Homo sapiens: one gene and its partners. The protein of the gene in region 3 purifies or fractionates together with the protein of the main gene of each other region. This does not show direct contact. Each region holds a gene or a part of one and is shown on either strand. Other genes may lie near its edges.

Region 1 (3,652 bases), on a different chromosome or scaffold from region 3:
TCTATTGAATGCCTGTTGTCATTCTCCTAGATGTGAACTCTTCCACACCTTTTCCCATACTCATAAAAACATATAGGGTTTGATGGGGTGAAACACATATGATTATTTAATTAAAATGTCATGGTCTTTAAGTCCTTACAAAGTTTTTACCAATAGGTAAACAAACCAAATCAGTTTTTAATAAGGAAGTCTATTGGTTCATATAACTGGAAGTCTGAATAGGACTGATTTCAGGCTTAATTTGTTTTCCTCTGGTTCTTACGGCTCTGCTCTCTTGACTTTTCTTAAAGAATTGAATTACTTAAAGAATTCTTCACTGACAGATATTTTTCCTAAATGCATCAAAACTAGTATTTTATTGTCTTCTGACTTCGATTATAGCTGTTGAAGCTTCCTGTCAGTTTGTTATATATTTGTAGTTCATCTCTATTTTCTCTTGTAGCTTTTTAAATTTTCTGCTTCTGCATTTTCACTGCAGTTTAAGTGGATCATCCAAGCTTCTTAATCTCTCATAATTTCTCTCTTTGTCTCACTCTCCTATTTTATGGATAATTTCTTCAGCTCTATCTTCTACATCATTAGCTTTAAAAATTTATTATCAGTATTATTTTTGATTGGCAAATTATAATTGTATACATTTATGCGGTATAGCGTGATGTTTTGATACATATATACAACATGTAATGATTAAATCAGGCTAATTAACATTGCCTTGCCTATAATTTTTTATGATGAGCTATTTGAAATTCAGTCTCAGTTATTTTGAAATATACATTATTATTGACCATAGTCACCTTCCTGTGCAATAGATCTCAAAACCTATTCCTTCTGTCTATCAGAAACTTTGTACTCTGTGATCAACAGCTCCCTATTCCCTCTCTCCCCAAGTCCCCCACCCCCAGCTTCTGGTAACCATCGTTCTACTCTCCACTTTTAGGAATGGAACTGTATGGAATTCTAGGAATTCCACATATGAGATAATGCAGTATTTGTCTTTCTGTCCCTGGCTTATTTCACTTAGTGTAATGTCCTCCAGTATTCCATTGTGTATCTATACCACATTTTCTTTATTCATTCATTAATGGACACTTAGGTTGTTTCTATGTCTTGACTATTGTGAATAATGCTTCAATGAATATGGGAGTGCAGATATCTCTTTTACATACTGATTTCAGTTCCTTTGGATGTATACCAGAAGTGAGATTACTAGATGATATGGTAGTTGTATTTGTGGTTTTTTGAGGAACCACCATATTGTTTTCCATAGGGCTGTACTAATTTACATTCCCACCAACAATGTACTAATTTGTTTTTTCTTTTTTGAGATGAGGTCTTGCTGTGTAACTCCGCTGGTCTCAAACTCCTGGGCTCAGGATCCTCCCATCTCAGCCTCCTGAGTAGCTGGGATTACTGGGATTATAGATCTTGTACATATTTTGGTAGATTTGTACCTAATTCTTTTTTTCTTTTTTTTTCTTTTAGTGCTAACGTAAATGGTATTGTATTTTTTATTCCCAACTCCAGTTGCTTGTTGCTGGTGTATAGGAAAGCAGTTGACTATTGTATGTTAATATTGTATACTGAGACTTGGCTATCATCACTTATTAGTTCCGGGACGGGTTTTTTTTTGGCAGTTCTTTAGGATTTCTACATGGACTATCACAAGGACAGTTTTATTTCTTCTTTTCCAATAGGTATGTCTTTTCTTTCCCTTTCTTGTTGTATTACATTAGCTCGAGCTTCCAGTATAGTGCTGAGTAGGAGTAATGAGGGAGTAGCATCTTTGTCTTGTTTCTGATTTTAGTGAGAAAGCTTCTAGTTTCTCGCCATTAAGTGTGATCTTAGCTGTAGGATTTTTGTAAATGTTCTTAAGTTGAGGAAGTTCCCCTCTATTCCTAGTTTGCTAAGATTTTTTTAATATTAAATATCATGGATTGATATTGGATTTTATCAAATATGTTTTCCATACCCATTGCTGTGATCATCTGAGTTTTCTTCCTTAGCCTGTTGATGTGATGAATTACACAAAATAATTCATGAATGTTGAGCCAGGCTTATATACTTGGAACAAATCCATCTGGTCATGGTTGTAATTCTTTGTTTACATTGTCGAATCAGCTTTGCTAATATTTTGTTGAAGATTTTTGCATCTGTGTTCCTAAGAGATACTGGTATGTAGTTTCCATTTCTTGTAATGTCTTTTCTGGTTTTAGAATTAGGGTAATGTTGGCCTCACAGAATGAGTAAAGAATTGTTCCCTCAGCCTTTATTGTCTGTAAGAGATTTTAGAGAATTGGTTTCATTTTGTCCATAAATGTTTGGTAGGATTCACCATTGAAACTGTCTGGTCCTGGTCCTTTCTTTTGGGGGAGGTTATTAATTATCAGTATAATTTCTGTAACAGATACAGGCCTATTCAGGTTATCTATTTCTTGTATGAGTTTTGGTACTTTATATCTTTCAAGGAATTGGCCTGTTTCATCTAAGTTTTCAAATTTGTGGGTATAGATTTATTAATAATGTTCCACTGTGTCCGGAATTGGCGGGTTCTTGGTCTCACTGACTTCAAGAATGAAGCCGCGGACCCTCGCGGTGAGTGTTACAGTTCTTAAAGGCAGCGTGTCCGGAGTTTGTTCCTTCTGATGTTCGGATGTGTTCGGAGTTTCTTCCTTCTGGTGGGTTTGTGGTCTCGCTGGCTCAGGAGTGAAGCTGCAGACCTTTGCAGTGAGAGTTACAGCTCTTAAGGTGGCGTGTCTGGAGTTGTTCGTTCCTCCTGGTGGGTTTGTGGTCTCGCTGGCTTCAGGAGTGAAGCTGCAGACCTTCGTGGTGAGTGTTACAGCTCATAAAGGCAGTGTGAACCCAAAGAGTGAGCAGCAGCAAGATTTATTGCAAAGAGCAAGAGAACAAAGCTTCCACAGTGTACAAGGGGACCCCAGCAGGTTGCCACTGCTGGCTGAGGCAGCCTGCTTTAATTCTCTTATCTGGCCCCACCCACATTTCGCTGATTGGTCCATTTTACAGAGAGCTGATTGGTCTGTTTTACAGAGAGCTGATTGGTCTGTTTTGACAGGGTGCTGATTGATGTGTTTACAATCCCTGAGCTAGACAACAAAAGTTTTCCACTAGATTAGCTAGATACAGAGAGTGTGGATTGGTGTATTTACAAACCCTGAGCTAGACACAGAGTGCTGATTGGTGTATTTAAAATCCCTTAGCTAGACATAAAGATTCTCCAAGTCCCCACCAGACTCAGGACCCCAGCTGGCTTCACCCAGTGGATCCCGCACCTGGGCCGCAGGTGGAGCTGCCTGCCAGTCCCATGCCGTGCGCCTGCACTCCTCAGCCCTTGGGCGGTTGATGGGACTGGGTGCCGTGGAGCAGGGAGTGGCGCTCTTCGGGGAGGCTTGGGCCGCGCAGGAGCCCACAGTGGGGGGCTGAGGGGAGGCTCAGGCATGGCGGGCTGCAGGTCCCAAGCCCTGCCCCGCGGGGAGGCAGCTAAGGTCCTGCGAGAAATCGAGCACAGCAGCTGCTGGCCCAGGTGCTAAGCTTCTCACTGCCCAGGGCTTGCAGGCCGGCCGGCCGCTCCCAGTGCGGGGCCGCGGAGCCCACGCCCACCCGGAACTCGAGCTGGCCCGCAAGCATCACGCGCAGC
Region 2 (3,652 bases), about 57 Mb from region 3:
AGCTAATGCTCAGCCATTAAGATTTCATTAAGATACTAGTCATTTTCTCCTTATCTACTTTTGCGGCAACTACCTATTCCTCTGTGCTCTGTCAAACATGAAACAGATCATGTGTTTCATCCATCAAAGATAATGTGTTCTAGTTACCTCCAGAAACCAGTTTGCTTGGTGGCCTGTGACCCCAGCTCTCCAGTAGGCTAAAAAAAAAAAAGATTTTGTATATTATTTGGCTTTCCCATTGTTATGATGGGAACAATACTCCCATCTGACTCTCTACTTTCTAGGTGGAAATCGAAATCATCTTAATATGGTTTTTACACAATTAAAAAAACTCCTGTTCAATGTTTCTATTATGACTATATGCATTACATTCCATATTAAATCATGTAGCGGCATTTCGTTTTCTTGTACAACTTGGTTTTCTTGAAATTAATTGCTTCTTTTTATTTTTGCATTTATAAACTTCGGTAAGACATCTCAAAAAACAATTTTTCTAGATGTTCAAACCTATTCGATAGTCTATCTACTCTCCTTTTCCTCTTCCTTATTTTTTTCTTGAAGACCTCCCTCCCAGGGCATTCTTTTCTCCTGCTCCCTCCGGATGGGAAATGCCCTAGTCCTGCTGTTCAGCATCAACCCGGGCCTTCCCTTCACACATTTTCTGGGGAGTAGCTTTACCTCTCCCATGGTAGGATACAGGGTTTCCTGTACCCTGTGTCTTCCTTCATGATATACTTTCTCATTTTGTTGGAGCACATCCTCCAGCAGCTTCTCAAGAAAGGATGTGTGTTTTGAAATTCTCAGTAATCCTTGGTTGACCATTCAAGAGAGGAGCACTAAAAACCTAATTGCTTGGCAGAGCTTGGTGACTGGTGAAATTTCACTGTAAGTTAGGTCTTGGCCATAACATTGAGGAACACAAAAATGGAAGTAGCTATAGGATACTATTCTTGGAATGGTTAGCTCCTCAGAGACTTTTCTCCTGCCTTGGGGCATAACCCTGGTTGCTGCAGTCTTCTGGAATCTGAGTGGGGGAGGATGTGGGGAGGGGATATTGCTTAATTCCCCCTTCTGTTCTGATTATGGTGCATCCTCTCTCCAGAGAGTAAACTTTGTGTGGAGCAGGATTGGGGATGGTAGGATGGTGAGGAAACTCCTGAATACTGGAGGTGGCAGGGGAGATCTGGGGACTGAGTTGGGCATTTTAAAGACTCACAACCAACAAACTCTGTTTTTATTTTTATTTTTTATTTTTTTGAGACAAGGTCTCATTCTGTTGCCCAGGCTGGAGTGCAGTGGTATGATTTTGACTCACTGCAGCCTCCATCTCCTGGGCAGGATCCACCTCACCCACCTGAGTAGCTGGAGACACAAGTGCAGGCCACCATACCCAGCTAATTTTTGTTTTCTTTTTGTAGAATCAGGGTTTTGCCATGTTGCCCAGGCTGGTCTGGAACTCCTGGTCTCAAGCGATCCTCCTGCCTTGGCCTCCCAAAGAGTTGGGATCACAGGCATGAGCCGCCATGCCTGGCCAACAATCGCTGTTTTTAGCCTCTTCCTTCATCCCCTCTTCAGAGGTTACTGATGCCCCCAGTTCTCAAGTGCTTCCAAGGTTGTGAGGCTTCTCCTTGTCTCCTGCCAACACCACACCTCTCCCCACTGCAGGCACTTGGGTTCAACTTTTTTTGGTCTGCTAAACGTCTTACCAGGTGCCACCTACTTGTAGCCTCCAAAATTTAGCTGACATCTCCCATCTCTGCAGTTGTTTTCTTTCCCATTGTTCTGTCTTTGTGCCTGTTTTCTAAGGAGTAGCTTTACCTCTCCCATGGTAGGGTACAGGGTTTCCTGTACCCTGTGTCTTCTTTCATGATTTACTCTCTCATTTTGTTGGAGCACATCCTCCAGCAGCTTCCTGAGAGGCTTTGTGCCTCCTTTCTTCCCCATTGTACTGTTTTTCATGCCTCTTTTCTTTCCCATTGTTCTGTGGCTTTGTGCCTATTTTATTCATTCCCTCTCATTTTAGTGGGGCTTTAAGGGGCAGACATAAATTTGCTCTATTGAAGCAGAAGTTTATTAGTTCATTTTAAAATGGAGGAAAATGAGGGCAGAGGAGAGACAGATCCTACCCAAAGCCGCACGATGAGTTAATGGCAGGGCTGGATGGGGTTTACCTGTTGCTTTCTCCCAAACACCGTCCCCCTGGGTAGAGACTGGGATCCTGGGGAAGCCCCCAGAAAGACTGCTTTTTGGGAAGGGGAGTGTATCAGGCGGAGCTGCTAATGGCAGCCATTACTTGGTGGTCAAGGATTCTGGAGTCTTAGAGACCTGGCTTTAGGCAGGTTTAAGTAAAGCAAGACCCTTTGCCCTTCATCCTCAGCTTCCTCATCTGTGAAATGCAGGAGTGGTGAGTCAAATAAGATGCTGCATGTCCTACTCTTGGGACATGCCAGACACCTAGAAGTTAGAGGTTGCTCTTTTATCATCATGGTGATGGCATGCACCTTTTTCAGGGCCGGAGCCAGTTCTTGGAGGAGACTCTGCACAGGGCATGGATCACTGTGGTGCCCTTTTCCTGTGCCTGTGCCTTCTGACTTTGCAGAATGCAACAACAGGTAAGGGGGCTCTGCTGAACTGGGGGCAGCCCTAGCCCAGTCGTGGGACTGTGATGCAAAAGGGGGAGGCGTCAAACCATGGGAGATTGAAAAGGGCCACTTAGGCTTCCTGGGGGCAGCAGGAGCTGCTTGTGAACTAGACTCTCAGGGTGGGATGGAAAGCCCAGAGGTTGTGGGGCCAGAGGGCAGTTGAGACACAAACTGAGGGGGAGGTGTGTCCCCACAGAGACATGGGAAGAACTCCTGAGCTACATGGAGAATATGCAGGTGTCCAGGGGCCGGAGCTCAGTTTTTTCCTCTCGGTGAGTTGGATGTGCCTCCCACCCCAAGCCTGCACCTTGAATCAGTGGGTCAGGGTTAGTCTAATGTAGACTCTTAACTGTGCATTTCTTCAGCACTTTTATTGAGCACCTACTGCATGCCTGACACTAGGCTCTGGGGATGCAGGATGGGCATGTCACTGCCCTCATGAAGTTTATCATCGAGGAATGGGGGCCCTTAATCATAGATGTCATGACACTAAGTGCAGAATTATGGGTCTCCATGCATTTTCCTGGGAAGGGGGTCTAAGATTCTGGCTGGGCTCTCCAGGGTCTATGACCCAAAGACTGAGCAGCTCTAGGTGAGCGGCCAATGCTGAAGACTGGTCAGGGCTAAGAGTGGCTACTGGGAAGCTGTGAGGGAGCAGTCAGGGAAGGCTTCCTGGAGGAGGTGACAATAAACTGGGACCTGAACAGGAGTTAATCAAGAGGAGGGGATAGATGGGGTAGGGAGGTAACAGTGTGCCAAGGACACTGTGTGTGCAGTGGTCTGGAGGTGCGTGTGACAGAGGTGTGGGTGGGGAGGCCCTGCCCTCCCAGGCTGTCTACAGCCCCCTCTCACCCTTACCCCACTCCGGGCTCTGGCCTCCCTGGCCATCTCTCTGGGCTGCAGTCAACTCCACCAGCTGGAGCAGATGCTACTGAACACCAGCTTCCCAGGCTACAACCTGACCTTGCAGACACCCACCATCCAGTCTCTGGCCTTCAAGCTGAGCTGTG
Region 3 (2,688 bases):
TCCACCCTGACCTCATGTGTTTGCTCAGGAAGGTATCCTCCATGAAGAGCTGTCCACATACCCGGATGAAGTTTTCGAGTCCCCATCGGAGGCAGCGCTAAAGGACTGGGAGAAGGCACCGGAGCAGGCGGACCTCACCGGCGGGGCCCTGGACCGCAGCGAGCTTGAGCGCAGCCACCTGATGCTGTGAGTGCGGCAGGCAGGGAAGAGGGGCAGAGAGAGACCCCGGGGCCCGTCAGGAACAGCTGGGCGAGTATCGGCATTCACCTCTGTGGGCGATGGAAGGGGTAGCCTCAGGGACTGGGAACTCACTACTCACTGGGCCACCAGGGGTGGGAGACGCAGAGCTGGGCATGGCCCCAGTCTCATGGCTTGCCTGTGGAATGGGACAGCAATCTTAGAACCCAGGGGCTGGGCAGAATCCAACGGGGAGGCGGAGGTGACAGAGGTGATACTTGCTGAGTTGCAGAAGTCAGTGTGTCCCCGTTCCAGCTCCCTGCCATCCCCGGAGGCCCGCAGTGTTGCTTTTTTACTGGCAAGGAGAAGGCAGATGCCGGGCGACTTGCGCAGTATATTCGCCAGGATAGAGACAGGGTGCCCTGGTGCCCCCCGGGGAGGGACTGCAGCAGTTTGCGGGGCTGGGGCGGGAGGTGAATGCCGGCTCCCTCCAGGCCCTTGGAGCGAGGCTGGCGGAAGCAGAAGGAGGGCGCCGCAGCCCCGCAGCCCAAGGTGCGGCTCCGACAGGAGGTGGTGAGCACCGCGGGGCCGCGACGGGGCCAGCGTATCGCGGTGCCGGTGCGCAAGCTCTTCGCCCGGGAGAAGCGGCCGTATGGGCTGGGCATGGTGGGACGGCTCACCAACCGCACCTACCGCAAGCGCATCGACAGCTTCGTCAAGCGCCAGATCGAGGACATGGACGACCACAGGTAGGCGTGGCAGGCAAGGCCTGGGTTGGGATGGAGGCTCCCGGGGGAGGGTGGGGGCTCCGGGTCGGGGATGAGGCCCCCGCTGACGCTCCACCCCGCAGGCCCTTCTTCACCTACTGGCTTACCTTCGTGCACTCGCTCGTCACCATCCTAGCCGTGTGCATCTATGGCATCGCGCCCGTGGGCTTCTCGCAGCATGAGACGGTGGACTCGGTGAGCCCCTGTGCCTTCCCTGGGCCCAGACGAGTGGAGTCCGGGCACTGGACCCCCTCCCGACCCGCTCTGGGAGGAGAGGGCCAGAGTCGGGGCCCGTCTGATCCCGCTCCCCAACCTCCCAGGTGCTGCGGAACCGCGGGGTCTACGAGAACGTCAAGTACGTGCAGCAGGAGAACTTCTGGATCGGGCCCAGCTCGGTGAGGACGGGGCTGGGGGCGGGGCCGGCGGGGGCGGGACCTGGAGGTGCCCGGCGGGGGCAGGAGGCCCCGGACTGCGGCCGCTCGTCTCCCTCGCCCGCAGGAGGCCCTCATCCACCTGGGCGCCAAGTTTTCGCCCTGCATGCGCCAGGACCCGCAGGTGCACAGCTTCATTCGCTCGGCGCGCGAGCGCGAGAAGCACTCCGCCTGCTGCGTGCGCAACGACAGGTCGGGCTGCGTGCAGACCTCGGAGGAGGAGTGCTCGGTGCGTTTCCCCGCCCGGGACTCCCGCCTTCGTCTGCCCGGTGTTCGCTCTTCAGACCTCAGATAGACTCGGCAGAGTGATCCTTCGCCCTCGTTCCTGGCACATCCCGCCGTCCTTACGCGCAAGGCCTTGTCATATTCATTCCTCCTCATCCCCACCCTCCCCCATCTCCAGCTCCTCGCCCCGTAGACCATCATCTGATTTGGTCTTTTGATTTGGGTGTACTCTTCCAGCATGTGTCTTAAAGCTTACATAAGTGGTATTTGCCTCTTTTCCACTAAGCAATTTTTAAAAAAATTCATCCCAACTTTCATCACATCATCTTATGTGGAAGTGCCGTAGTCCATACCAGTTCCCTGATTTAGGACACAGAGGTTGTTTCTGATTTTCAGCTAACAGGAATTATGCCGTCAAACTCCTTGTAAGAGTCTTTTCCAACATGCACGTGCATCTCAAGAGTGGGGGTGACTTGTAGAAGCGGAGGGAAGAGCTCAGTGGTTTTGCCTTCGACTCCTGACTCCCTGCGTGCCCCTCATTGCCCTGACCCAACTGGACCTGACCCTGTGTCCCCCTCCCACAGTCCACGCTGGCAGTGTGGGTGAAGTGGCCCATCCATCCCAGCGCCCCAGAGCTTGCGGGCCACAAGAGACAGTTTGGCTCTGTCTGCCACCAGGATCCCAGGTTAGTCCTGCCGGCAGCTCTCTCACCTGCCTTTGTCCACACCTTCCCCGGGGGCTGTGGTGCAGAGGGTGTAGGGGCTCCTCTTGTTGGCGACTTGGCTGGAAGGGTGCCAATGCTAGGGGCTCGAAGCCGGTCTGACCACATACTTGGCTCATGCAGGGTGTGTGATGAGCCCTCCTCCGAAGACCCTCATGAGTGGCCAGAAGACATCACCAAGTGGCCGGTGAGCTGCAGTGGGGGGGTTGTTAGGGAGCCCTCCGTGTCATGTGGGAGAGAATGCCACACCCCACCCACTGGTGATACCAGAGATTCCCATCATGGGACCACCTCACGTTTTCAGAGGCTGTGCACCTGCCCTTTGTACAGCCTGTCCATCAACCAGCGCCTGCCCCTCTGAGCAAGT

Evidence for each region.
Region 1: the proteins of RHBDF1 (region 3) and TMED5 purify together in Homo sapiens (co-immunoprecipitation; one large-scale study listed by IntAct). This does not show direct contact.
Region 2: the proteins of RHBDF1 (region 3) and ADGRG5 purify together in Homo sapiens (co-immunoprecipitation; one large-scale study listed by IntAct). This does not show direct contact.

Annotation. Positions count from the first base shown.
Region 1 is NC_000001.11:93,170,292-93,173,943, reverse strand, and holds part of TMED5 (transmembrane emp24 domain-containing protein 5 isoform 1 precursor), read left to right. Parts: intron 1-3,652. UniProt on the Homo sapiens protein: Potential role in vesicular protein trafficking, mainly in the early secretory pathway. Required for the maintenance of the Golgi apparatus; involved in protein exchange between Golgi stacks during assembly.
Region 2 is NC_000016.10:57,559,546-57,563,197, forward strand, and holds part of ADGRG5 (adhesion G-protein coupled receptor G5 isoform 1 precursor), read left to right. Parts: intron 1-2,510; coding exon of another isoform or gene 2,511-2,548; coding exon 2,549-2,612; intron 2,613-2,838; coding exon 2,839-2,914; intron 2,915-3,545; coding exon 3,546-3,652. UniProt on the Homo sapiens protein: Orphan adhesion G-protein coupled receptor (aGPCR). Ligand binding causes a conformation change that triggers signaling via guanine nucleotide-binding proteins (G proteins) and modulates the activity of downstream effectors, such as adenylate cyclase.
Region 3 is NC_000016.10:60,036-62,723, reverse strand, and holds part of RHBDF1 (inactive rhomboid protein 1), read left to right. Parts: intron 1-28; coding exon 29-186; intron 187-671; coding exon 672-926; intron 927-1,027; coding exon 1,028-1,139; intron 1,140-1,264; coding exon 1,265-1,339; intron 1,340-1,442; coding exon 1,443-1,604; intron 1,605-2,184; coding exon 2,185-2,285; intron 2,286-2,444; coding exon 2,445-2,508; intron 2,509-2,625; coding exon of another isoform or gene 2,626-2,682; exon of another isoform or gene 2,683-2,688. UniProt on the Homo sapiens protein: Regulates ADAM17 protease, a sheddase of the epidermal growth factor (EGF) receptor ligands and TNF, thereby plays a role in sleep, cell survival, proliferation, migration and inflammation. Does not exhibit any protease activity on its own.